7 linked regions of the Homo sapiens genome follow. The protein of the gene in region 5 interacts with the protein of the main gene of each other region in a pairwise test. Each region holds a gene or a part of one and is shown on either strand. Other genes may lie near its edges.

The links.
Region 1: the proteins of MFF (region 5) and OPN1SW interact in binary tests that used the Homo sapiens proteins (3 or more experiments, as listed by UniProt).
Region 2: the proteins of MFF (region 5) and NTS interact in binary tests that used the Homo sapiens proteins (3 or more experiments, as listed by UniProt).
Region 3: the proteins of MFF (region 5) and TMEM128 interact in binary tests that used the Homo sapiens proteins (3 or more experiments, as listed by UniProt).
Region 4: the proteins of MFF (region 5) and STX8 interact in binary tests that used the Homo sapiens proteins (3 or more experiments, as listed by UniProt).
Region 6: the proteins of MFF (region 5) and CYB5B interact in binary tests that used the Homo sapiens proteins (3 or more experiments, as listed by UniProt).
Region 7: the proteins of MFF (region 5) and MMGT1 interact in binary tests that used the Homo sapiens proteins (3 or more experiments, as listed by UniProt).

The regions. Positions count from the first base shown.
Region 1 is NC_000007.14:128,772,995-128,776,981, reverse strand, and holds the start of OPN1SW (short-wave-sensitive opsin 1), read left to right. Parts: upstream 1-1,187; 5' UTR 1,188-1,200; coding exon 1,201-1,543; intron 1,544-1,827; coding exon 1,828-1,996; intron 1,997-2,318; coding exon 2,319-2,484; intron 2,485-3,093; coding exon 3,094-3,333; intron 3,334-3,581; exon of another isoform or gene 3,582-3,987. UniProt on the Homo sapiens protein: Visual pigments are the light-absorbing molecules that mediate vision. They consist of an apoprotein, opsin, covalently linked to cis-retinal.
Region 2 is NC_000012.12:85,872,855-85,877,094, forward strand, and holds the start of NTS (neurotensin/neuromedin N preproprotein), read left to right. Parts: upstream 1-1,440; 5' UTR 1,441-1,549; coding exon 1,550-1,622; intron 1,623-3,785; coding exon 3,786-3,847; intron 3,848-4,240. UniProt on the Homo sapiens protein: Neurotensin may play an endocrine or paracrine role in the regulation of fat metabolism. It causes contraction of smooth muscle.
Region 3 is NC_000004.12:4,238,224-4,241,723, reverse strand, and holds part of TMEM128 (transmembrane protein 128), read left to right. Parts: intron 1-1,244; coding exon 1,245-1,403; intron 1,404-3,500.
Region 4 is NC_000017.11:9,250,821-9,254,320, reverse strand, and holds part of STX8 (syntaxin-8), read left to right. Parts: intron 1-3,500. UniProt on the Homo sapiens protein: Vesicle trafficking protein that functions in the early secretory pathway, possibly by mediating retrograde transport from cis-Golgi membranes to the ER.
Region 5 is NC_000002.12:227,349,251-227,352,750, forward strand, and holds part of MFF (mitochondrial fission factor), read left to right. Parts: intron 1-3,263; coding exon 3,264-3,323; intron 3,324-3,500. UniProt on the Homo sapiens protein: Plays a role in mitochondrial and peroxisomal fission. Promotes the recruitment and association of the fission mediator dynamin-related protein 1 (DNM1L) to the mitochondrial surface.
Region 6 is NC_000016.10:69,431,119-69,434,618, forward strand, and holds part of CYB5B (cytochrome b5 type B), read left to right. Parts: intron 1-3,500. UniProt on the Homo sapiens protein: Cytochrome b5 is a membrane-bound hemoprotein functioning as an electron carrier for several membrane-bound oxygenases.
Region 7 is NC_000023.11:135,963,989-135,967,488, reverse strand, and holds part of MMGT1 (ER membrane protein complex subunit 5), read left to right. Parts: coding exon 1-99; intron 100-2,305; coding exon 2,306-2,465; 3' UTR 2,466-3,500. UniProt on the Homo sapiens protein: Part of the endoplasmic reticulum membrane protein complex (EMC) that enables the energy-independent insertion into endoplasmic reticulum membranes of newly synthesized membrane proteins.

The sequences.
Region 1 (3,987 bases), on a different chromosome or scaffold from region 5:
TATAGTCTCGCTCTGTCCCACAGGCTGGAGTGCAGTGGCGTGATCTCGGCTCACTGCAGGCTCCGCCTCCCGGGTTCACGCCATTCTCCTGCCTCAGCCTCCCAAGTAGCTGGGACTACAGGCGCCCACCACCACACCCAGCTAATTTTTTGTATTTTTAGTAGAGACGGGGTTTCACCGTTAGCCAGGATGGTCTCGATCTCCTGACCTTGTGATCCACCCATCTCAGCCTCCCAAAGTGCTGGGATTACAGGCTTGAGCCACCACGCCCGGCCAACTCATCTATATATTTATGATCTGCTGAGGTGGAAAAGATTCATTCATAAAGCCTAAAGTGTAGTACTGAGTACAAGTGCAGGTGGAACTTAAAGCAGAGTTGGTGTCACTGGGGTGGGCTGCACAGAAGAGGTGTTTGTGAGGTAGGCTGTGAGGGCTAGATAAGACTTCAATGAACAGACAGGAGGAAGACTGTGGCGACTTGTTGAGCTAAGGGTAGGGGTAGGCATGAACATGGCGTAAGGACAGTGAACAGACCCACCTCCCTGGCTGGAGGTCTGAGTAGGAAAGGCACACTCTTTGAGTAGATTCAACACAAAGAAATGGAGGCAGCCTGGCTCAGGGATGCCCTAGACCTCTAGGCATTGTCAAGTTGCCTAAGTCCTGTTCCATCAAGGCTGTTTACTGATGTGCTTCCAGGGCACTCCCCACTCCCAGCCCTTTCCTGCAGCCCAGGGCTGGTTCCTAGCCTCTCAGCAGACTTAAGATGGGCACCTTCCACAAAGGGGCAGATGAGTTGAGGAAAACTTAACTGATACAGTTGTGCCAGAAGCCAAAATAAGAGGCGTGCCCTTTCTATAGCCCCATTAAAAGAACAAAAAAGTGGAAGCATCTTCAGTGAATATGGGTCAGCACCTCCCAGACCTCAGGGAGTCCACTTCTGTTCATCCCAGCACCCAGCATTGCATATCCAGATTATTTGAGCCCAATCTCTTATCCTCTGAAGAACACAATCGGCTTTGGGGCCACAAAAGGTTTAGGTAGTGGTTTAGGGATTTCTAATCCCAAACTTTGTCCTTGGGAGGTTTAGGATTAGTATTGATCATTCACAGAGCCCAAGTGTTTTTAGAGGAGGGGTTTTGTGGGGTGGGAGGATCACCTATAAGAGGACTCAGAGGGGGGTGTGGGGCATCCATGAGAAAAATGTCGGAGGAAGAGTTTTATCTGTTCAAAAATATCTCTTCAGTGGGGCCGTGGGATGGGCCTCAGTACCACATTGCCCCTGTCTGGGCCTTCTACCTCCAGGCAGCTTTCATGGGCACTGTCTTCCTTATAGGGTTCCCACTCAATGCCATGGTGCTGGTGGCCACACTGCGCTACAAAAAGTTGCGGCAGCCCCTCAACTACATTCTGGTCAACGTGTCCTTCGGAGGCTTCCTCCTCTGCATCTTCTCTGTCTTCCCTGTCTTCGTCGCCAGCTGTAACGGATACTTCGTCTTCGGTCGCCATGTTTGTGCTTTGGAGGGCTTCCTGGGCACTGTAGCAGGTACTGCAGGGGAAAAAGGGGTTAGGGGAAGGCAAAGGTTGCTACTCCACTGGAGGGGGTTCCTAAAGAGGAGTCTGGGGGAAATGAGTCTGGTGCTTTTTAAAATACTGGGGTACAAAGCAACCCAGACTAGAAGTTTGGCTAAAATAGGATGTTTGAGTCTTCACTCCAAATGTCAGTCCAGCCCTGTCTCTCTGTGCTTGCTCCACCCGATCTGTTTGCCACTCTGCCAGCCAGGCTGGGTGGGGCTCTGTCTAGCCCATTATCCTCACATTTCACCACAGGTCTGGTTACAGGATGGTCACTGGCCTTCCTGGCCTTTGAGCGCTACATTGTCATCTGTAAGCCCTTCGGCAACTTCCGCTTCAGCTCCAAGCATGCACTGACGGTGGTCCTGGCTACCTGGACCATTGGTATTGGCGTCTCCATCCCACCCTTCTTTGGCTGGAGCCGGTGAGAGTGCAGGGCAGTGGTGCTGAGTTAACTAGGAGCTCAGGTTGATGTGGGTGGAAAGAGAGCTTGGGTATAACTATTTAGTCTTTGACCTCTACTTTTAAAGAGTTGCAATATGAGGCGAAAGGGCAGTGGGAGACAAGTGCTAACGTTTACTCTGCAGTTGGAATTGCTGTAGCTTCTCCCAGTCAGGACAGAAAACCCCCCTGCTTGAAGCCTTAGGGCATTCCGTGGGTTCTAAGTGGAGAACACAATCCAGGCATCTCAGCTCCCACTGCACTCTTGTGGAGAGTCCAGTGAGCAAGTGTTTGGTCCTTTGCAGGTTCATCCCTGAGGGCCTGCAGTGTTCCTGTGGCCCTGACTGGTACACCGTGGGCACCAAATACCGCAGCGAGTCCTATACGTGGTTCCTCTTCATCTTCTGCTTCATTGTGCCTCTCTCCCTCATCTGCTTCTCCTACACTCAGCTGCTGAGGGCCCTGAAAGCTGTGAGTGGCATTTGATAGTCAGGGAAGAAGGGGTTCGGGGCTCCACATGAGAAGGAAGAGTGCTCTGAAACATAAGATGCCTGGAAATGTCCATAGCCAGAGAGGGTATCTAAAAGCAGCAAAGGAAGTAGGAGGAGGGAGAATGATGGAGATCCAAAGGAACTAGGCCAGGAGATGGGACAGAAAAGAGGCAATCAGAGTGGATGCCCCCTCCCCCATCCCACAGAAAAGCATCCAGAGACCGGGCGCAGTGGCTCACGCCTATAATCCCAGCACTTTGGGAGGCCGAAGCAGACGGATCACCTGAGGTCAATAGTTCCAGACCAGCCTGGCCTACATGGCAAAATGCTAAAATGCGAAAATTAGCTGGGCATGGTGGTGTGTGCTTGTAACCCCAGCTACTCAGGAGGCTGAGACAAAAGAATCACTTGAACCCGGGAGGTGGAGGTTCAGTGAGCCGAGACTGCACCACTGCAACTCCAGCCTGGGCAACAGAGCGAGACTCGGTCTCAAAAAGAAAATTAAAAATTAAAAATTAAAAAAAAAAAAAAAAAGCATCCAGAGGGCCAGGAAAAAGAGAGATGTGATGCTTTCCGTGCTCCACCCCAGGTTGCAGCTCAGCAGCAGGAGTCAGCTACGACCCAGAAGGCTGAACGGGAGGTGAGCCGCATGGTGGTTGTGATGGTAGGATCCTTCTGTGTCTGCTACGTGCCCTACGCGGCCTTCGCCATGTACATGGTCAACAACCGTAACCATGGGCTGGACTTACGGCTTGTCACCATTCCTTCATTCTTCTCCAAGAGTGCTTGCATCTACAATCCCATCATCTACTGCTTCATGAATAAGCAGGTAAAGCTCTTTATTCACATTCCTATGGTCCAGAAGACCCTGGTTCTTTTCTCACCATTGACTTTTAACTCAGAGCACCCTGGACTCTACCCAGGTTTCTAGTAGACGAGGGAAGCCACAAAACCCCCGAGTAGGTTGGGAAGCCTTTGGTAAGCACAGGGAGGAAGGCACGGTTATCAAGACGAGAAAATAGAACCCCGGAGGAAAGAACTTGAGTCAGGAAAATGAAGTTGCTCCAAAGAACAGGATGAATGAAAGCATTTTATTGAAAAACTCGTGCAGCAAACCACCATGGCACACGTTTACCTATGTAACAAACCTGCACATCCTGCACATGTATCCTGGAACTTAAATAAAATTAAAAAAATAAAAATAAAAACTCAGATTCCTCTCAATTTTCAGTCCTTGCATTTAATAATTTCTTAATCATTTCCCTTCCAACTTTTAGCCTGCACGAGCATGTGTGAAGCACAGAAATCATACCACATGCAAAAATCTCTAAAATATCTTATCATCTGAAGGTACTGGGGGATTTCCTATCCCATCTGAAATCCGAGCTAATAAACACCAAACCCTAAGTGGCAAAAACCCTACTTTCAGATGGTATTGTTTCCTCAATCCCAGAGGTAGACTCAAAACTAATTTGAAACCTCC
Region 2 (4,240 bases), on a different chromosome or scaffold from region 5:
TAAATTTCTGGTATTATATGAAAGACTCCTTGCTATTCTAAGTAATTATTAAATGTTTGGATTTAATCGCTTTGCTTAAGTTTTGGGTAAAGGTGAAAAAGTTAAACTCATAGATTGTATAATATAAATCAATTATCTATAGGAACCAATCCTATTTTTTCTCAACTGTTACTACATGATTGATTTATTTAAAAATTAAACAAGACTCAGACAACTTTACATTCAAATATTCACATCTCTAACAGCACTGACTTGTCAAATTACCCCATGTATCTTGAAATGCTTACTACAAGAAGAAAGTTTTACTCTAAAAGGCATTTTGAACAATTTTCTTTTGAGAACTCAGACAAAGAATGGGTATCAGTGTAACTCATGAAATACATGAAGACTATCATAGAAAAGTGACTTTGGTGAATGGTGGTTATTTAGGATTGTCTCCTTTCCAAAAGTACAATCTCTTTTTTTATGGTGAAAAGAGTATTATAACAGGGAAAGAAAGCCGATGCAATAGTAAAAACTGTTGAGAAGGGAATTATACAAAGAGTGAGACATGGCATCAAGAATGAATTCAAAAAGAGCAGAAAAATATAGGCATAAAAAGAGATAATGTACAGAAAAAAAGTCAGTGATACAACAACACAAATTTTTACCTGCTAGAATGTAAGTAATTTAGAGCTGGATTTTATAAACATGAAATTGTTTTTCTAATACATTCAACCAAAAGTCAGCACACATAGTTCAGTCATCTCTCATTACTTACAATAAAATATTTTCTATTTGTTAGGAAATAATATCTTATTCCCTGGATCTATTATTTCTTTTTATTGATTTTCTTTCTATTCTCTAAACTTAATTGCTTAATTTTTATAACTGATTCTCTGTCTCTATTCCATCTTATTCCAGCATGGATTATTTAAAACCTGTATTAGTTTTGGAACCACTAAACATTTGCTCAGAAGTTTGAATTACCAGAGAAGCACCCTAACTCTTCAAGAACTTCCAAGCCTAAGGAATCACTGATTTCATGCATTCATCCTGGAGATTTTCCTTAAAAATTAGAAATAACAGATCTCATGTTTCACAAAATCAAAATGACAACTTTTGGAGTGGGGGAATGAGAAGTGGGAAAAGGATGATACTGGGGGTTCTTTGTCAGTATGCTGTATGTATGCTGTATGTCAGTGCAGTTGAATGACTCCTTCTGTGCGTCAGAAATCCAAAGCAGCAGCAGCAGCAATTAGGGAAGATCGTCACTTTCACTCAAGGTTCAGAAATGGGGGAGGAGAGCAGGGGGGACAAAGGAAAAGGGGAGGAGAAAGCAGGGCAAAGAGGGGAGGGATGGAGGTGAAGATAGGGCACATCCTGCAAAGATAATGTCTGTACAATCAATGACATCATCCTCCTGCTTATATATATAGGGGAATGGCCAGAGCACCTCTCATAGTTCACTCACTTTCAAAGCCAGCTGAAGGAAAGAGGAAGTGCTAGAGAGAGCCCCCTTCAGTGTGCTTCTGACTTTTACGGACTTGGCTTGTTAGAAGGCTGAAAGATGATGGCAGGAATGAAAATCCAGCTTGTATGCATGCTACTCCTGGCTTTCAGCTCCTGGAGTCTGTGCTCAGGTAAGCAAAACAGAATTTCACAACTCCCTGAAGTGATTTCTTTTTTCTCTTTTGCAGTGTGTTGCTACTTATGTTAATGTATCTGGGGAGAAGAGTTGCTCCCTTTTATTCAGGATTTACCTTTTAGTGACAGAAACTGAGTATCTCTTTCTCTGCCTTTATGATTACTGAGAGATGTATTTTCTCTTTTAAAATCTGCAAAGCAATAAAAGGGATTTCAATGAAACACTGCACGACCTCCTTTGGAATTCAACAACTAGAGGGAAAAAAACCCTACAAAACTTTCAATTAGGCTGATCATTATCTAATGAGAAATACAGAGGCAGTGGCTGTCAACCTGCAAACCCATCATTAAATCCCATTCCATTCAAAATGTTTTACTCTCATCCTCATTCATTCTCTTAGGAAGCGGTGGCCCTCACGCCCTTGTAATAGTCCCCGTATTATTTTCTTGTTTGTGTTAAGATAACAAATAAAGTGAAAATTGATACTTAGTGAAAAATGAAGCATTATTTGTAGAAAATTATTTCTAGAAAAATACAAAAATATTCCAGATCCTTTTTGAGAACAGAATTTGCATAGTCTAATAAGTGTGCTATTAATATAACTGTTTGGCATTTTTTCCATGCCATTTAAGTTAATACAAAATACAATTGGAAAATTGGTATTCTTATATTGATGGAAATTATTTGACTTTAGAGTGTTTTGCATGTGGTTTGAAAGAAGTTATATAGTCCTAAGTATCTACGAATAACTCACTTTGAAAATAAGACTTAAATTGAAAGGTATAACATGAAATATTACAACCATTGCAAAAGGCTCTACTTAATATTTAAGAAATATTACAATGAACACTTCAAAGGGAAAAGAACACATTAGGAAGCAAATGCAGCAAAAATAATTTAACCTGTTCTGTGCTTTTATGTATCATAAATATGACATGGAAATGTTTAACTCAAACTCATGCTATCATTTGATTTAAATTATGAAATTAAAATCTAAGAAGATATAAATGTGATTTATACAAAATTTTAAATTTATTTTAATCATCAGAACATAACTTTCAGCTTCTACTTTTTAAATCTTATGAGAAAAAACAAACTTTTCTATAATTATGATTTTATCTGAAAGTTATATGAGATTAAAGATTCACATACTTCTGGAAGAAAAACTGGGTTATTGATTAAGCACTGTGTTTATTAACTTGAAACTACTTGTTGTAATAATGCAATAGTTATAAGGATTTTGGTATACATTGTTCATAAATTCCTAAAACAGATTATGTCTCTAACAAATAGTGAGAAAAGATCTCTTGTATAATTTAGGTTCTAGGTAAAATTAAGCCAATGGGTTCTCCAATTGTGGCATTTCTTTTTACTGAGTGTGTAGTACAAGGAAGATAGAGTCATTTTTAACTTTATTTTTATTATTGTATAGTATTTTCCAAATTTTCCTTCTCTGTAAAATATTCATTAACAGAAACTTGGATAGAGTTTTTTAAAAATCCAGAGATCCATTTTCAATGCTGTTGTACATGTGTTGTTGAACAGCTCCACTTTTGCTTTAAACAATTTCCTTAAATGCCTATGAAAAAATTGAGGATACATAATTTTGAATTCTCTTAAAGTACAATACAATTCTTTCAACGTGTGTTTTGTAAAAAACATCTCAAGTTAAGTAAACCTCAGTATCTTTATTATTCTAAAATTATCAGTAAGCAATTCCCTTTGGTTTTGTCTTGAAAAAGTCTCTTGTATAGTCTTCATTATGTTGTGTTTTTAAATGTTAATATGCATATTTTCTATATATGTAAACTGTGGCTGGTAAGAAATAAGCTACTCTAGCATATTTGGTAAAATATGTGTTATACAATGTAATCACATTTTTAAAGCCTGAAATTCAAAGATTAAACAACTCCCAGTGATCAATAGCTGTCTGAAAAATAATCATATGCTTATTTTCTTAGAAGTGCTTCTACTATTTTAGCTTCCTATTATGCTAAAGTATAACTATAATTTGTTTTTTAGGATTACTATTTTTAAGAAAATACATAAGAAAGACACTAACCTCTAAGATTTTTTTTTAGATTAACCTAAAATCTGTAGATTATGATATAATTATATGATATGTAATTATAGTAAACCTGATTTTGATTTTACTCAGATTCAGAAGAGGAAATGAAAGCATTAGAAGCAGATTTCTTGACCAATATGCATACATCAAAGGTAACTTTTTCTTTTCTTTAACCCTGAGTTGAAGAACATATGAACTTTCATTATAAACATGGTATCCTTTTCCCATAGTAATAACTTCTCATCAAGATTGAAAAGTTCCTTGAGAGGCATTTCCTTTTTGAAAAAAAAAATTTCTTTTAGTTAAAAGAAGTTAAAGGTGTTGATATGACAGGCAAAGAAATTATAATTCTATCAATCAGCATGTTGCAATTTTAATTAATTGCCACACATATTTACTTGCCTGTAAATGTTTTTAAAGGAACTTGCTTCCATGCCTTTTACATTGGGTATGATGAAAGGTATATTGGTCTCAAGTTAAATGAAAACAAAGTGAGCTCTTTGCCTTTTTTATTATATTGGGGGAAATAAAAAGGTGTTCCTAAA
Region 3 (3,500 bases), on a different chromosome or scaffold from region 5:
AAGATTCAAACCCATACAGACAGATTTCAGAGGCTGTGCTCTTAACCCCTTCCCTCTACAGCCTCTCATGACTCCGAATCTCAGAATTGCATCATCGTAAAAAGCCTTCATGGAATCCGGAACCTTGCCATTATTGGAAGTTCACTTTGTGCCTTTGTAACTTATCTGTTGTAGCCATCTGTTCTCCCTCTCTCTTCCACATGGATTGTCAGGCTTTTCCCATAGAGAAGCAGATGATGATGGGATATTGGATTGAGTTGGGAGAATGGGAAAGGCATTTCAGTCCCCAAGTCCAGCTGGGGTGGAGGGAAGGGGTTGTCCAGGTTGCCTCACTCTTGCTGAATCAGGTCACAGGTGGAATTGGAAGGGAGTAAAAAGGCATTGGCATTGAGGGTGAGGTGGTGAGTAGAAGATATTTTGAAAATGGGAGGATTTCATTTAGAAATCTTTTATGAGAGAAAATTTGAATTATTGATCTTCCTAATTGTCTTTCAGTATTCCAAGAAAGTCCACTTAACTTGGAGGAATGAAGTTTCCCACTGATAAACTTCTTTAATCCTGTCACACTCAAAACTTCAGAAACAACCAGAAAGCCACTATCTTCCTTGTATTTTTGTTTTTATTTATTTTATTTTTTGAGACAGAGTTTCACTCTTGTTGCCCAGGCACTCCAGGCTGGAGTGCAATGGCGCCATCTCAGCTCATTGCAATCTCTGCCTCCTGGGTTCAGGCGATTCTCCTGCCTCATCCTCCCAAGAAGATTGGATTACAGGCTTGCGCCACCACGCCTGGCTAATTTTGTATTTTTAGTAGAGACAGGATTTCTCCGTGTTGGTCAGGCTGGTCTCGAACTCCTGACCTCAGGTGATCCACCTGCCTCGGCCTTCCAAAGTGTTGGGATTATAGGCATGAGCCACTGCGCCCGGCCTCTTCCTTGTATTTTTAAAGAAAATGCATTGTCATGACCAGAATTTTCCCTTGGTTGGTTGGCTGATGAGAGTGTATATATAAATGCATGTATTTCAAGTCTTACTTTTCATTCTTTCCTGAGTTGTGTATCTCTTTTTCTCACCCCCATCTCCCATAGATTGAGACTTTCTGAAAGCATGGATTGTTTAAGTATGGCTCCCTCTGCAACACTTGATATTCTTAGAAGCAGATTTTTAAGCTATTAGTAAAAACTTTTAAGATATGTGACGATTCATTAAGTGCTGTCAGACCTCTTACTGTTTTTATCTCCACAGCTGGTTTCTCTGTGGCAGTGCCTTGTTGCTTGTCAGTTTATCAATTGCATTTTACTGCATAGTCTACCTGGAATGGTATTGTGGAATTGGAGAATATGATGTCAAGTATCCAGCCTTGATACCCATTACCACTGCCTCCTTTATTGCAGCAGGAATTTGGTAAGTTAACTTTGAAATGACTAACAGGAATGAACAACAAATTTTTTTTTTGATCAGATAGTGATATGCTTGGTCCAAACTTCGAAAGAAAAAAAGTTAAAACAGAAAAATAGTCTCCTGGTCATTCATGCTCTCTGGTTCCCTTTTGATTAGTATCTCTTTCTCCTTCTATTTATGGATCTAGTTATTTAAAGCACAGATGGTGACATTCTGTACATATTCTGCATTTTGCTTTTTAAATCTATTTTATTATGACATACAGTACATATAGAAAAGTGAAAAAAACTGAGATGAATGAATTAGTGAATGAATTCTCATGAAGTGAGCATTGGTGTAAACTGAGCCAGCACACTGGGAACCCCCTTCATTCTCCCTCCCAGTTACTACACCTTCCCTCCTGCCACAGGTAAATACTGCCCTGACCTTCATGGTAACTACTTGCTTTGCTTCCATTAGATATTCTATTTTTGTTTCAGCTACGCTTTTGAACTTTATAGAAATGGATTTGTACAGGGTGTATTCCTTCACATTGAGCTGGCTGTGTGCAGCATTGTGTGCAGTTCTTTCATATTGTCGCCGGGAACAGTGACTCATCTTCATTGCTCTTTAGCATTCCATTGTTTAATTGAATCCCAGTTTTCTTTTCCCTTGTTGATTGTGTTTAGATTTTTTTCAGTTTGGGGTTACTATGAAGGATGCTATAAAGAGCATTCTTGTACATGGCTCTTGTAGCACAGTGAACACATTTCTGTTGGGTGTAGAGATGTATGTATATATGTATATATATGTACCCCAAGGGGTAAAATTGTTGGATGTACGTACCTTTGACTTCAGTAAATCATGCCAAACTGCTTTCCAAAGTGGTTGTTTGTCCTTTTCTCCTTTTGTTTTTCAGTGGATCCTTATAGTTTGGGATTCTTCCATAATGGTACATATAGATGTGTCTCATTTTTTTAAACAGTTGCATAGTTTTCACAGCATGGACATAACATGATTTATTTAACCTGTCTTCTGTTGTTGGACTTCGTTATATTTATACCCAAACAATGCCACAATGAATAACCTTCTTCATAAGTTAATTAAATACTCAATGAAAAATACAGGGTTTTTTGGGTTTATAAAAGTAATACTTGCTCACTGAGGAAAAAAAATCTGTAAATTACATGAAAACACAAAGGAAATATATCCTATGATTCAACCAGAAAGAAAACTACTTTTCCTATGTTGTGTGCAGCTCTCTAGTTTTTTCTTTCTTTATATCAATTGGATTTTTTTTTCTTTTTGGAGATAGGGTCTCACTGTGTCACCCAGGCCGGAGTGCAGTGGCATGATCACAGCTCACTGCAGCCTCGACTTCCCAGGCTTAAGTGATCCTCCTGCCTCACTCAGCCTCCCGAGTAGTTGGGACCACAGGCATGTGTCACCACATCTGGCTATTTTTTGTATTTTTTGTAGAGATGGGGTTTCGCTGTGCTGCTCAGGCAGGTCTCAAACTCCTGGCCTCAAGCCATCTGCTTGTGTTGGCCTCCCAAAGTGCTGGATTACAGGCGTGCGCCACCACCCCCGGCCTAATTGAATTTTTATTTTGGAAGAACCATATACCTTTATACATATTCTTTCTATGACTTATTTTCTGTAGTTGAAGTTCAAGGTTGTTTGACAGTGTGATGTGGTTATTGTTAACCTGTATGTGGGGGCATGCAGATACGTTGTTTTACTTTTTCCCATGAGGGTAAGATCATGTCCAGAAATGTTAATTTTTTAGACAGTGTGATTTGTGATTATAGTTATTTAATACTCATACTTATCAAACTATTATATATTAAAACCAATAACCATCTGAACTTATTTGAATATAGTTTTCCCTATTCTGTTCTTAGAAATTTCAGTCATTAAAAATCTTTATACTTAGTGTTTTAATTTTACTTTGATGACAGGAATAGTGTTTTTCTCAATGAAAGATATAATAGCAGCTTATAAGTGATAACTGTTTTCATTCTGTTTTTAAGAGACAATATTTTGGTCTTTTTTACCATGATAGTTTAGTGTGTGATGTCATAAAAATGGGCTGTAGCCATTTAAATTATTGTTGAAGTC
Region 4 (3,500 bases), on a different chromosome or scaffold from region 5:
CACTGAGTTTGAGGGATTAACTAGACCACGAGTGGGGAGCTCCCGGATGGAAAGGATAGCGCGTGTCGAAGCTGGGAGGCAGGGCCCCTACCTTCTGCATCAGCCTGTTGGGGGCACCGGAGACAGCCAGGATGGCTCAAACACAGCGCGCAGAGTGCGGCTGCAGGGTTGCTGGGTCAGACTGTGCAAGACCCCCTTGGCCACTGTAAAGTTTGGATCTCAGTTTCAGCCACTGGAGGATTTAAGCAAGGAGGTGACCTGATCTCCTTTACATTCTGAAAAGCTTGCTGTAGTTCCATCGTGGAGCAGGGACCGGGGAAAGCAGTCCCTCACTGCAGGGAGCCAAATCAGGGATGGCAGTGACTGCGCATGCCTTGAGGCCTCTTCCCTTGGACCTCACGCTCCGGGTGTATGAACCAAAACCAGATGTGTGTTTTCTTCTTCCCAATCAGTTGTTGTTCTTGATTTCTTTGTTCTTGTCACTTGCTCCGCTCTTCTCATAATCACCCTGATTTGACAATTCACGGTCATTCATACTGGCCTCTGCTCCAGGCCATCAGAGCCTCAGTGTGGAGCCTGCCTTGATGCATGGAGCTTCTGGGCCCAAGTGTCCTCCCAACTGTGATCCCACTGGAGCTTCAGGAGCAGTACCTCTTCCTAAAACACCTCTCATCCTCTCCCTCATCTCCTCAGCTGCCAGCCCCTCCCTGTCATCTTAGGGTGAGCCCAGGCCCTGGAGTGCCAGGGATTGCCCCTTCGCCCCATCCCAGCCTGTGCCTGCCTCCTCATTCTCGTTATCTTCTCCTCATGTTGCGCAACATAAACCTTCACCCAGCCAGGACCAAGTCTTCAGCTGATCACCACACAGGCACCAGAATAACCAAGAACTAGTGAAGCTCCTGCCCAGGGGAGCTTTTGGTCAACCTGAAGATGTTTCTGGAGCAGAAATCAGTGAAAAGATTTGTTCTTCTGCTTCTGGCAAGAAGATGGACTAAGATATTCTCACATACACACACATACGCATACACACACACACCCGTATCCCTACCTTCTCACTGCAGATGGACTAAGATATTCACACACACACACACACACACACACACACACACACACCCCTACCCCTGCCTTCTTGCTGCAAGCATCTTGAAATGTGAGGTAAAATAGTGTAACTCCACCCACCCACAAATGTTAATGCAGGGCTGAATTTACAAGGAAGAAAGGAAATCCCTAGATGAAAGAAATGAAGAGCGCATTGAAGGCCAGCGCCTAAGTGGGCGAACTGATGCTGCAGGTGGGTCATCATCATGATGATGGAGAGCAGGAGCTAGCAAGCCTCTGGAAGAGGCCAGGTCGTAAACGGTTTAGGCTGTGCAGACCACAGACGGTGTCACATCTCCTCCTTTTACCTTTTTGACAACCCTCTACAAATATAAAAACCATTGTTAGCTCATGGGTTGCACAAAAACAGAGCACAGCTAGATTTGGCCCATGAACCAAAGTTGGCAGAGCCTTGAGGTAGACTAGGATGAGGTTTTCATCTACAGGAAGACGGGGGAGAAACCTTGGGGCCCCAAGAGAAGCGTTTCTCAAAAGATTGGATCATCAGAGAAAGAGCCCATATCAGAAAAATGCAACCACAGTCACAGGTAGATGACAAAGAAGCTTGCCCTAGTTTTTTTTTTTATTTTCGTTTTCTTTTTTTTTTTTTTTTGAGACAGAGTTTCACTGTTGTTGCACAGGCTGTATTGCAGTGGTGTGATCTCAGCTCACTGCAACCTCCGCCTCCCGTGTTCAAACGATTCTCTTGCCTTAGCCTCCCAAGTAGCTGGGATTACAGGCACCCACCACCACACCTGGCTAATATTTTTTTTTTTTTTGAGACAGAGTCTTGCTCTGTTGCCCAGTTTGGAGTGCAGTGGCGCAATCTCGGCTCACTGCAAGCTCCGCCTCCCGGGTTCACGCCATTCTCCTGCCTCAGCCTCCCAAGTAGGTGGGACTACAGGCGCCTGCCACCACGCCAGGCTAATTTTTTGTACTTTTAGTAGAGATGGGGTTTCACCATGTTAGCCAGGATGGTCTCGATCTCCTGACCTCATGGTCCGCCCGCCTCGGCCTCCCAAAGTGCTGGGATTACAGGCGTGAGCCACTGCGCCCGGCCAATTTTTTAAATATATTTTTAGTAGAGACGGGGTTTCACCATGTTAGCCAGGCTGGTCTCGAACTCCTGACCTCAGATGATCTGCCCGCCTCGGCCTCCCAAAGTGCTGGGATTACAGGCATGAGGCACCGTGCCCGGCCTATTTTTTTAAATATATTTTTAATAGAGATGGGGTTTCACCATGTTGGTCAGGCTGGTCTCGAACTCCTGACCTCAGATGATCCGCCCGCCTTGGCCTCCCAAAGTGCTGGGATTACAGGTGTGAGCCACTGCACCCAGCCACTTGCCATACATTTTTAAGTCTCTTCAATATTCAAAACCATGGTGCAGTGCCCACATGGGTTGAGCTTAAGATTGGTATGGCCTGATCCACATTGAACCCTGAGGATCTGTGGAGGGGATTCGGGAAGCCCGTGAACTTGGACCGGAAAGCAAATTGGACTCTTATGTTCACAAATGTCTAATTGAAATTTAGCATTTTCTTTGCTCACGAACATATGCCACAGACTACCGTGGCGTTCAGCAGTCCTGATGGCTGTGCAACCATGTGACCCTGCACACGTGGCTCTCCCTGTTACTTTCTGAAGCATTTTCATGGACCTCTCCTCCTCTGCTACCCACCTCTCTCGTGGGGCCTTGGCAGCTCAAGGACTCTTCAGTGAGCAAACCTTTCTTGAGTGCTTACTTTGTAGTAGGGCGCCCCTTCTCTGTTATGCTATACCTTGTCGCCGCTGGTACCTGGCACGTGGTAAACACTCGTTAAATACTGGGCAAGCGAACATGGGAGACAGTGAGCTCATTGCACTAAGTGAGGGCTGCATTCTGTGGGGCCCACTTCATCAGCATCAGGTGAAGGAACAGGCAATGGTCAGTGCAGACACACGACCCAGAGGAGGCAGGGCGGGGCTGGAAGGCAGAGTGGCACCCAGCATGGGCTGGCTAGGAGGGCCTGTGCTCTCCAGCCAAAAACGTCAGGAAATGAAACTAGCAAATACTAGCAGAAAAAGTATATATCAAAACAAGCACCTCTATCGGTGAATATTTTTACAAATGGGTGACTTAAGGATCTTGGACTCAAGAACACAAAGTGAAGCCATGTGGAGAATGGAGAAATGGGTTCTAGAATGCTCTCCTAAGCCCTTTGCTTTATCAATGCGTCATCAATGCATAATCTGATTGGGTAGTGAGGGTGGCTGTCGTCAGCAGCTTGCGCCCTCCCTTGTGGTCCAAGGTGTACACAGATGCTAGAGTTAGGGGCCTCACCCCCTCCTGGCTTGAGTGCTGCCTGGGGGGGCCTGGCCACACCCAGGCCCCTGCCTTCTGCACTCAGCATCCTGCAAAG
Region 5 (3,500 bases):
AACTTATAAAAATATGGATTTTTTCCTCCATAATGGAAAAAAAATTGTGCCTCAGAGTCAAATGTATAAAATCAAAAATCGTATTAGTATAAACTTTGTATTTTTTTAATAATGAAAAATATTTTTGGACTTTCAGTGAAATTTTATTTCACTTTTTTACATTGTGATGAATTGATAACTCTAAAATCCCTTTTCTGGGAAGGAATTCTCTTTTCTCATTCATTTCAGTAAGTTTTTAAAAGTTCATGAAGGAGTTATATTAATAATGCTTTTCTCCTAGATCTGTAGCATTAGTTGTTACCTTGGAGCTTGGAGGGTTAGATTCTCATCAGTCTTATTGACGCTTTCAGTATTGAAAGGATTTTTTAAAGTTGTATTCACTTAGGATCTCAGTGTTGAGCAAGATTTTATCAGAATTTTAAGTGCCAAATCAGTTTTTATTTCCTTTGTGAGAAGTATCTGGCATGACTTTTCAGATATAAGAAATAGGAATGTGAAATTTGGATAATGTTCTACTTGCATGATTATAAAATAATACTGCTTATAAAATTTTAAGTGCTTCTATGTTCCTTGCTCTGTAGATCATTTTTTCTTTTCTATTTTATTACTCTTGGCTATTATGCTAATGCAATACCTTATCTTTGGTCATATGCCATCACATTAGGTGTAGTTAATTTAAACTAGAACTATTTGGCAGAAAAAGAAAAAAGCTTTCTGCTTGCTTTATCACTATGAAGTAATGCAGATTCACAATTCCTTGACATAAGAACTGTGTTCAGTTTACATTTTAAAGGACGCTGTCAAAAGGTTTGTGTACCATATATTTTTTTCTTACAAGAATGTAGATGATCTAAACCAAACTCAACGTGAAAACCAAGTTAAATCCTAGGTACATGTTAGAAAAGTTTATTTACACAGGTGAGTGTTACGCATTTGGAGAACTGATACACTGAAAATTTACCAAAGCACCAGGTGTGTCATTTGCTCAGGTGCAGCAGAAATTAAAATACTATTATGATTTGGTCCTTAACTGGTTAGAAAATGCCGGTCTCTCCCTGTATCTGTTAGAGCTATGTATCTCATTTTACAATGTAAAATATTCGCATCTTCAAAAAGAAACTTAGTTCCTGTGTAAGAACCTTATTTAAATATTGATAGATGAGTCATGCTTAGCTCTCATTTTTACGAGGGGCTTGATTATTTTTATGCAGTTTTTCCTTAACAGATTGTACCAGCTTTGAGTGCATAGAATAAGAAACCAATGTATGAATAATTTATATTTTTGGCAAGTATCCCTATAAATATACAGCTTGGAAGACCTAGAAATCCAGAGTTGCAGTGGATACAGCGTTTGTTATTTATAATTTTTCTCTTTAAAAAAGTGTATAATTCCTGATCCCCAATTAAACTTTATTTTCTGTAGCAGATTACATTTTTATAGCAAAGAAACACATATTCTGTTACGTCAGAGTGTATTTACTCAAAAAATGTCAGTACGCAAGTTAATGGCGGAGCTTGGTGGTAGCCTTGGATTTCTTTCCCTTTTGCCACTCTACAAAACATACTGTTGAGAAGATTTTATGTATTAAATCATACTTATCGTAGAAAATGGTACTTGAATGAAGTTTCTAACTTTGCCACATACCTGTCTAATTTACTTTTACAATATATGTGTCAATTGCCAGTGTGAGAAGACAAAATGAAATACGTTGTGAAAGGTAACTGTATTATTTTCTGGCTCTGCGTTATAAAAGGGAAATCTCTGTGGTGGAATAGGTTGAATATGACAGACCCATTTGAACATACTGTGTGCATTTTAAAAAGCTTTAGGAAGCACACAGTGATGGCTTCATCTAGTTAACCATTTTCATGTTAGTGCAATTTAAGATTGTAGTTAAATAACAGGTTTCCTAATGCCACAGAGTAAATATGTTAGTAGGATGAGATGAGTTAAAGACCTGTCTTAAGCATATGTGATTTCTCCATGTTTTTTAGCCAGTAAAATAAAAGTCAAACATGTTCCCCCAAAAAGTCTCTGAATCCCTTATCATCTAGGCTCCAGAAATTTCTTTAAGCACTGGTAGTACCTTTAAGACATGTAGAAGTTAAACATTAGAATTTTCTTACATGAATTGAATTATCAGAAAATAATTTGTATTGTAGTCAAAATTCCACAGCTGTGCCAACTTACAGAAAAAATTAGTGCATTTGGTATTAAACATTTACCATTATATAATTATTGTCTTGATACTTAAATTCAGGCAAAACCAGATCAGTTACTTAGAGAATGAGATATCCAAAATAGGATTTAATAATTCTTCAAATCTTTATATGGATCCAACACTCCAGTCTCCTTTCTCTGCTTAGTAAATATTGCTGATTGTTTTAGGGGGAATTGACCAGTGAACACTTAGAAGCTTTTGTTTTCTGATTTTAAAAGATAAAACGTATTGGAAAGGTTACTGCTTATCAAAGTAGAAAGCTAACTGTCCTCTAGCGCCAAAGTATATACTGAGAATGAGTGGAAATCCCCACCAAGTTTCCCATTGCACCTTAGTCTTCATTTCCAGCAGCCCTGTATGTCACTCCTGGCTGTCTCAAGATCAGACTCAAATTGTGGATTGCCCTTCCTGTAATGTGCTCTAGCACGTCTCCTGATCTCAGCTTCAGAGTGGAGGCTTGCATTTTCACTCTGGAGAGCTGAGAGTTTGAATGAGACACAGCTGCAACGAGACATCAGGCACTACTCAAAATTAATGAGGTGGGAGGGAAGGAAGTGTGGGAAATGGAGTTTCTTGAAATTTATGAATACGGTTTTTGAGATAGAGCTGTTGATATCAGATGAGCAACTGTGGTCATACCGGTGCAGCTAACCAGGTCCTGATATGCTTTTAAAGGTGCTAGTGATTTTTTTTTTCCAACTGGAAGAAAGGAATTACACTTTTTAAGCAGAGTTGTCCTCTGTCTTAAATTTCATAAAGTAAAGCACCAAGAAAATTATTTTATATGTTGGTGCTGTTTTGTCGTGTAAATATAGATTCCCTTTGTTTCTTTGATCAATAGTAATGTTGAGTTTATGAAAATGATAAAATGGAGGACACATGAGACAAGGATTTTTTAAAGTAGTTGAGAGATATTATATTGTATTGAAATATACAATATAATCCTATTTGACATTTATTTGTCTTGTTTTTGCTTTTATTTTATTACTTCTCTGTTTCCTGATTCTGTCTTGTGCCTTCTCCCGCAAAAACCTGCCTTAGACCTGTGTTGCGTGGTGGGTCTGCTGCCGCCACTTCTAATCCTCATCATGACAACGTCAGGTAAATTTTGAGACTTCGTAATTACCAGGGTAAATGCTTGGCGGAATTTGTGTGTTGCAGGGCATGTTGCATGTCGTAGCCATGCCTGTGTTTGTAGCTGAACTTGTTTCTACAGCTTTCCTCGATGAGTACATCTTGCTTCTCTCTAAGAACAGTGAATAATCAGTCATGACATTT
Region 6 (3,500 bases), on a different chromosome or scaffold from region 5:
CTCTGGAGTAGCTGGCACTACAGGTCCCTCCCACCACACCTGGCTAGTTTTTATGAGATGGGGTTTCACCATGTTAGGTAGGCTGGTCTCGAACTCCTGACCTCAAGTGATCTGCCCACCTTGGCCTCCCAAAGTGCTGGGATTACAGGTGTGAGCCACGGCACCGGCCTATATGTGTTTTTAGAAACTGTCACCATAAATGAGAATATTACTTTAGGAACCATCTCATAAATGGGATAACATTTTATTAACCCAACAAATATTTGTTAAGTTCTATATAGTAGTAGGCCCTGGTGGTGTATAAAAATAAACATAAACATGGAACCCCAGCCTGGGCGACAGAGTGAGATTCTGTCTTAAAAACAAAACAAAGCTGGGTGCAGTGGCTCACGCCTGTAATCCCAGCACTTTGGGAAGCCAAGGTGGACAGATCACTTGAGCTCAGGAGTTTGAGACCAGCCTAGGCAACATGGCAAAACCCCATCTCTACAAAAAATACGAAAATTAGACGAGCATGGTGGCATGAGCCTGTAGTCCCAGCTCCTCAGGAGGCAGGGGTGGGAGAAGGGCTTGAGGCCAGGACATCGAGGCTGCAGTGAGCCGAGATAGCACTACTGCACTCCAGCCTGGGTGACAGCGAGACCCTGTCTCCAAACAAACAAAACGAAAATATCCCATGATACTGCCTTCTTGAAGCTACCATTCTAGAGGAGTCAAAACAAAAACAGACAGATGAAATAATTTTAAATTATGGCACTTTTATGAAGAAAACAAATGAGTTGAGAAAGAAAAATCAGGAAAGATTTAATTTAATAAGAGTGATCTGGGAAAGCCTCTGTGAGAAGATAACATTTAATTGAGCTGATGGTCATGAACCTGATTTGGAAAGAATACAGAAAAGAGCATTCCAGCAGCATTTGAAGTCAAGCAAGAGTTTGGCACATTAGTGGGACTGAAAGAAGCTGTGTCTATAGTGAATGAAGGACAAGAATGGCCAGAGAGCTAGGCGGGACCCAGGACATGCAAGGTCTGGTAGGTAGTTTGGATTTGATCCAAAAGGTAATAGAAAACCACTGACATGTTTGAAGATGAGGGATGACATTGAAGCAATTTACAGACAGTCCCTGACTTACTAGGGCTTGACTTAAAATTTTTTGACTTTACCATGGTGTGAAAGTGATATGTGAGTACTCATACAAGCATTCTGTTTTTCACTTTCAGTATGGTATTCAATAAATTACATGAAATAGTCAGCACTTTATTGTAAGATAGGCTTCATGTTAGATGATTTTGCCCAACTGTAGGCTAACGTAAATGTTCTGAACACATTTAAGTTAGGGTAGGCTAAACTCTTTCAATCCCAATAATTTGTTTGAATACTACATCTTCCGTGCATATACTTATATGTGCAAACATGTATATACTTATATATACAAATATGTACAAATATATACAGAAATAGAGTCATAGTATTCTATTAGTTGATTTGCCCTCGTAGTCGTCATAGTATTTATTGAGTGCTTATTATTCTAAGTGCTTTACATGTAATTTCTCTTTTAAGCCTCCCAACAACCTGTTTTAGAGGTGAGAAAACAGGAGCAGAGGAGTAACTTTCACAGAGTCATAAAGTTAGGTGGCACAGGTGAGATTTGAAATCAAGCACTGTGACCCTATAGCCTGTACTCCTTTTTTTTTTGAGACAGAGTCTCGTTCTATCACCCAGGCTGGAGTGCAATGGCGCGATCTCAGCCCACTGCAACTTCCACCTCCCGGGTTCAAGCGATTCTCCCTGCCTCAGCCTCCTGAGTAGCTGGGATTACAGGCACCTGCCACCACATCTGGCTAATTTTTGTAGTTTTAATAGAGACGGGGTTTTGCCGTGTTGGCCGGGCTGGTCTCAAACTACTGACCTCAGGTGATCCGCCTGCCTCAGCCTCCCAAAGTGCTGGGATTACAGGCCTGAGCCACCATGCCCGGCCTGTGGCCTGTACTCTTAACCGTACCCTAGGATCTGCCTCAATGTTTTTCATGGCTGCAGAGTATGGAATTAGGTCTGTTTTATAGCTTTGTTCACATTTTAAATATAATTTGGAAGGATTGGGAATGTGGTATAGGGAAGTTAGAACAGATACCCCTTTCCTGGAACCTAGGTAATTTTTTTCATTTTTTAAGTAGGTCAAACAGGTATATAGTAAAAAGCCACCTTCCCCTCTGCCCAGTTTCACTGCCTCCTAAAGTTAACTCCCATTGTTTGTGTATCCCTCTAGTTTCTTTTTGCCTGTACAAGCCAAAGTGAATGTAGTTTCTCTTTTTTTACACAAAAGATAACATACTATGCACACTCATCTGTGTCTTGCCTTTTTCACTTAACTGTGTATCTCAGGGATCTTTCCATAGCAATAACTGGCATCCCTCCTCCTCCTTCACCACAGCTGCATAGGATTTATTATATGGATCATTATTTAAGCAGTATCCTATTGATAAACATTTGGGTTTTTCAATATTTTGCTGTCACATTTTTTTCTCTAAATCAACTTAATTGAAATCAAATGTAGGGACAATAAAATGTACAGATTTTGAATGTAGAGTTCAGTGAGTTTTGACAAATGTCTCATCTGTATAATCACCATCACAATCAATATACGGTCATGGGTCACTTCACAATGAGGGTGCATTCTGAGAACTGCATCATTAGTTGATTTTACCCCTTCACAAACATCATAGAGTATATTTACACAAACCTAGGTAGTATAGCCTGCTACACACCTTAGCTGTACGGTATAGTCTCTTGTTCCTAGGCTATAAACCTGTACAAACCTGTAGGCAGTTGTGACACAGTAACAAGTATTTGTGCATCTAAACATAGAAAAGGTGCAATAAAAATATGGTATTATAATCTTATGGGACCACCATCATATATATGGTCCATTGTTGACCATATTATGTGGCACATAACTGTAGAACATTTCTACCAGTGTTGTCCCCATACACACTCATTTTATTTCTAACACTATAGTACGTACTCTTCTGTCTAGCTTCTTTTGCTCAGTATATCTGTGAGATTCATCTATTTTTTCTGTGTTATCAGTGATTTGTAACTTATGATTTCATTGTGTGAACATACCAAAATTTGTTTATCCATTCACTTGTTGATTGACATTTGGGTTGTCTCCAGTTTGGGGCTGTTATGAATAAAACTGCTAGGAACTGTCATGTACAAATCTTTGTGTGGACATATGATTTTATTCCTCCTGGGCAAATACCTAGTAGTAAAATTGCTAGGAGTGAGATTACTAGGTTATATGTCTGTTTAACTTTTTAAGCAACTGCCAGAGCATTTTCCAAAGTGTTTATATAATTTTATACTCCCACCACAATGTAGGTTTTCCAGTTTCTTCACATCTTCATTGATACATTGTATTTGTCAGTTATTTTACTTTTAACCATTCTAATGGGTGTGTGGTTGGCCAGGTGCTGTGGCTCACGCCTGTAATCCCAGC
Region 7 (3,500 bases), on a different chromosome or scaffold from region 5:
TCTTCAGACACTTCTGGCCTTTGCAGTTACCTGTTACGGTATAGTTCATATTGCAGGAGAGTTTAAAGACATGGATGCCACTTCAGAACTGAAAAATAAGTAAGTCTTTCTCTTTTCATAGGCATTGCATTTCATAGAGGTTTGCTGTATTCACATAATTTTAAAAAGTATGTTTTCTGATACATAAAAGTTGGTTTTGTTTCTGCATTTTGATTACACAGTTTGTATGAATAATGAGGTAAAAACATTGAGGCGGTATTTGATACTGTAAGAAAATGGAAGATGAATGCCAGATTATTCACAGTAGAATCAAAAAAATACGTTGCTTAAAATTATTGGTTGGTTGTATGGATGAAAATAGATATATAGAAAAATAATGCCTCAGAATTTTTAACCTTTCTCCTTCCATTCCTTCCTTGCTCCCTTTCTTCCCCCCTCCCTTCCCCCTTTCACTCCTTCCATCCCTCTCTTCCTACCATCCTCTTTCTATCCTCTTGTCCCAGCTTAGTCTTTGGAAGAGTAAGTGGTTTTCGGTTTCCCCTCTCACTTGAACCTAGTATGTGAGATAAGCTCTGCTCCCAGGCCCTTTTCTACTACTGGATTAAAAGTATATTTGTTATTCTGCTTTCTTTTTTTTCTCCTGGACTACTTCTAAGCTATTTTCATGAGCTATGTTTGCTTTTATTTTTCATATTTTTACTTTCCTAAAATCATCCTTTAGCTTTGTTCAGTTCCATCTCTGGACTTTACCCACCTTCTTGATCCTGGACATGATGCCCCTTTACAATATTTTCTTAGAAGGAGTCACAGTGAACATTTATGTGTTAGAGGAAAGTCATATCCCCCTTTTAGTTCATTATGTACATTTTATTTATTTTTATTTCTTTCTTTCTTTATGGAGACAGAGTCTCTATCAACCAGGCTGGAGTGCAGTGGCATGATTTTGGCTCACTGCAACCTCTGCCTCCTAAGTTCAAGTGATTCTCCTGCCTCAGCCTCCTGAGTAGCTGGGATTAACAGGCACCTGCCGCCATGCCCGGCTAATTTTTGTATTTTTAGTAGAGACGGGGTTTCACCATGTTGGCCAGGATGGTCTCGAACTCCTGACCTGAAGTGATCCACCCGCCTTGGGTTCCCAAAGTTCTGGGATTACAGATGTGAGCCAACGTGCCCCACCCAATATGTACATTTTAAGGAGTTACATATCAGGCCTCTTTTTTGTATGGGAGTATGCTTGGATGTTTAGGTGGGCTGAGATTTGAGTTTTTGTCAAAGGAAGAGTTCTCCTATCCTTTCCAGGAAAATAATATTGAAAAACAAAAACCATAAAGGCCACACACCAAGGTGTTTGTGAACTCTTTTAGACTACATATCTCTCACTGGAAAAGTAGAAAGGATACTTTACTGTCATCACTGCTTGCTCTTACAAAGAGTCTACCAAGAATCACAGGCAAGGGGCCAGGAAAGAAAGAAGTAAAACAATGTCATTAAGTAGGTGGTAGAAAAATATGTGTTTGGACAATAGCAGGTACAGAGGGCCAAAAGGAATTTTTTGTTGTGCTTGAAAGATTCTTGGAAAACAGATCTGTGAAACGATCATATGGCTTGAATAATGAGGGCCAAATGAGAATAATCAAAGCTGTAATCTATGTGCTGCTTTTTTAAAAAGACTATTCGACATGCGTTACTGTTAGATTTACAGGGGAGATTAATAGTTGAGCTAGTATTTGTGTTGTTATTCATAGGCATTCTGGAAGGAATGGCTGGATAAAAAAAAATATTAGAAGCCGGGCATCATGGCTCATACCTGTAATCTCAGCTCTTTGGGAGGCTGAGGTAGGAGAATTGCTTGATCCTAGGAGTCTGAGACCACCTGGGCAACATTGGGAGACCCTGTCTCTACAAAAAATAATAATAAAAGAAAGCCATGTGTGGTGGTGCGCATCTGTAGTGCCAGCACTTGGGGGGCTGAGATGAGAGGGTCGCTTGAGTCCAGGAGTTTGAGGCTGCAGTGAGCTATGATTGTGCTACTGCACTCCAGCCTGGGCAACAGAATGAGACCCTATCTCTATTTTTTTTAAAAAGAAGAAATTTGAGAGCTATATGCTGCTTTTCCAGGTTTCTTATTTTCTTTATATAGGAAAAGAGATACAGTATAATTATTATTTACAGTCTGATTTCATGTATTAATACTTGTTAAAAAATATAACCCATAGTAAATTGATAATTCGTTAGAAGCCTACTTATTTTCAAGTAGGGTTTTATAAAGGTTTATCTAAAATTGATGCTTTTTTCTTCTTTCAAGGACATTTGATACGTTAAGGAATCACCCATCCTTTTATGTATTTAATCATCGTGGTCGAGTACTTTTCCGGCCTTCGGATACAGCAAATTCTTCAAACCAAGATGCATTGTCCTCTAACACATCATTGAAGTTACGAAAACTCGAATCACTGCGTCGTTAAGATTTTTACAAATTATAATAATAGGACAGGACACAGAGCTGGAATATTGGAGTTTGGGGTATAAAACACTCCTCCCTGCCCCCATTAGTATTTATATTGATCTTTCAGACCTACTTTAGTAAAAAAAACCATGGCCCTTGTTTATATACTGTTAATCCAATCATTAATGCAGTGTAAGTTATATGTGAAATGAGTCTTTGGTATTTCATATAGGAATTATTTTTTTTTTCATTTAAAACAAATCCACATCTTTTGTAAAAGCCACTGTTTTGAACACATTTCCTTGAAAAATGTTGGTGGTTTTTGTGATTATTTATTTTTTTAGATTTCTTTTCTTTTGCACTACAATTTTTGGAATCCTTTTGGAAATACTGTGTGACTGCTGTGTTTTGCAGCATGAATTATAGTAAAATGGTCTTCAATTCTTAACAAATGGACTTCCCTGATGAGACCAAAATGGTGATTTAACAGTTTTTCTTGTGTCCCCTAAAAAGTGGCTCTGCTTCAGAAGTACTTGCCAGTTTTTAATTTATTTGTGACTTTTCACCCTACCCTGCTCCCATATACCTTCTACCATCAGCTGTCTTGTTTCATCATTTCTCTGAGATTCTGTGTGCAGTGAGCAATTTTTGTGTCAGAAATTCTTTGTCAGAACAAATATATGTAACAGGCTCAACTTACTGTAAAGCTACTTGTGTTCTCTTCATTTGTCTGTAAAAATTTCCCTAATTGATTATATAGTGTAAGAATAGTTGAAGACTAGTTGAAGACCTTTTGTGATTTCATTATCATGCCTATGCAGAAGAAAAATCATTGAGGAAAATTGTCATTAGCCAGTTTAACTGATTCAAACTCTGTTTATTTCATACTAAACTAGTGAATAAGTGAAATAAAGGAAACTCGTCATTAATCTAAAGACAGAGTTCAAAGGAATTGGGCCAAATATATTCTCAGTATTTGGAACTAATGTTTTTAAGGTTTTTAGGAAAATCAGGTCATTTAAGAAATTGTTTTGTAGTTTCTGGTTTATAGCAG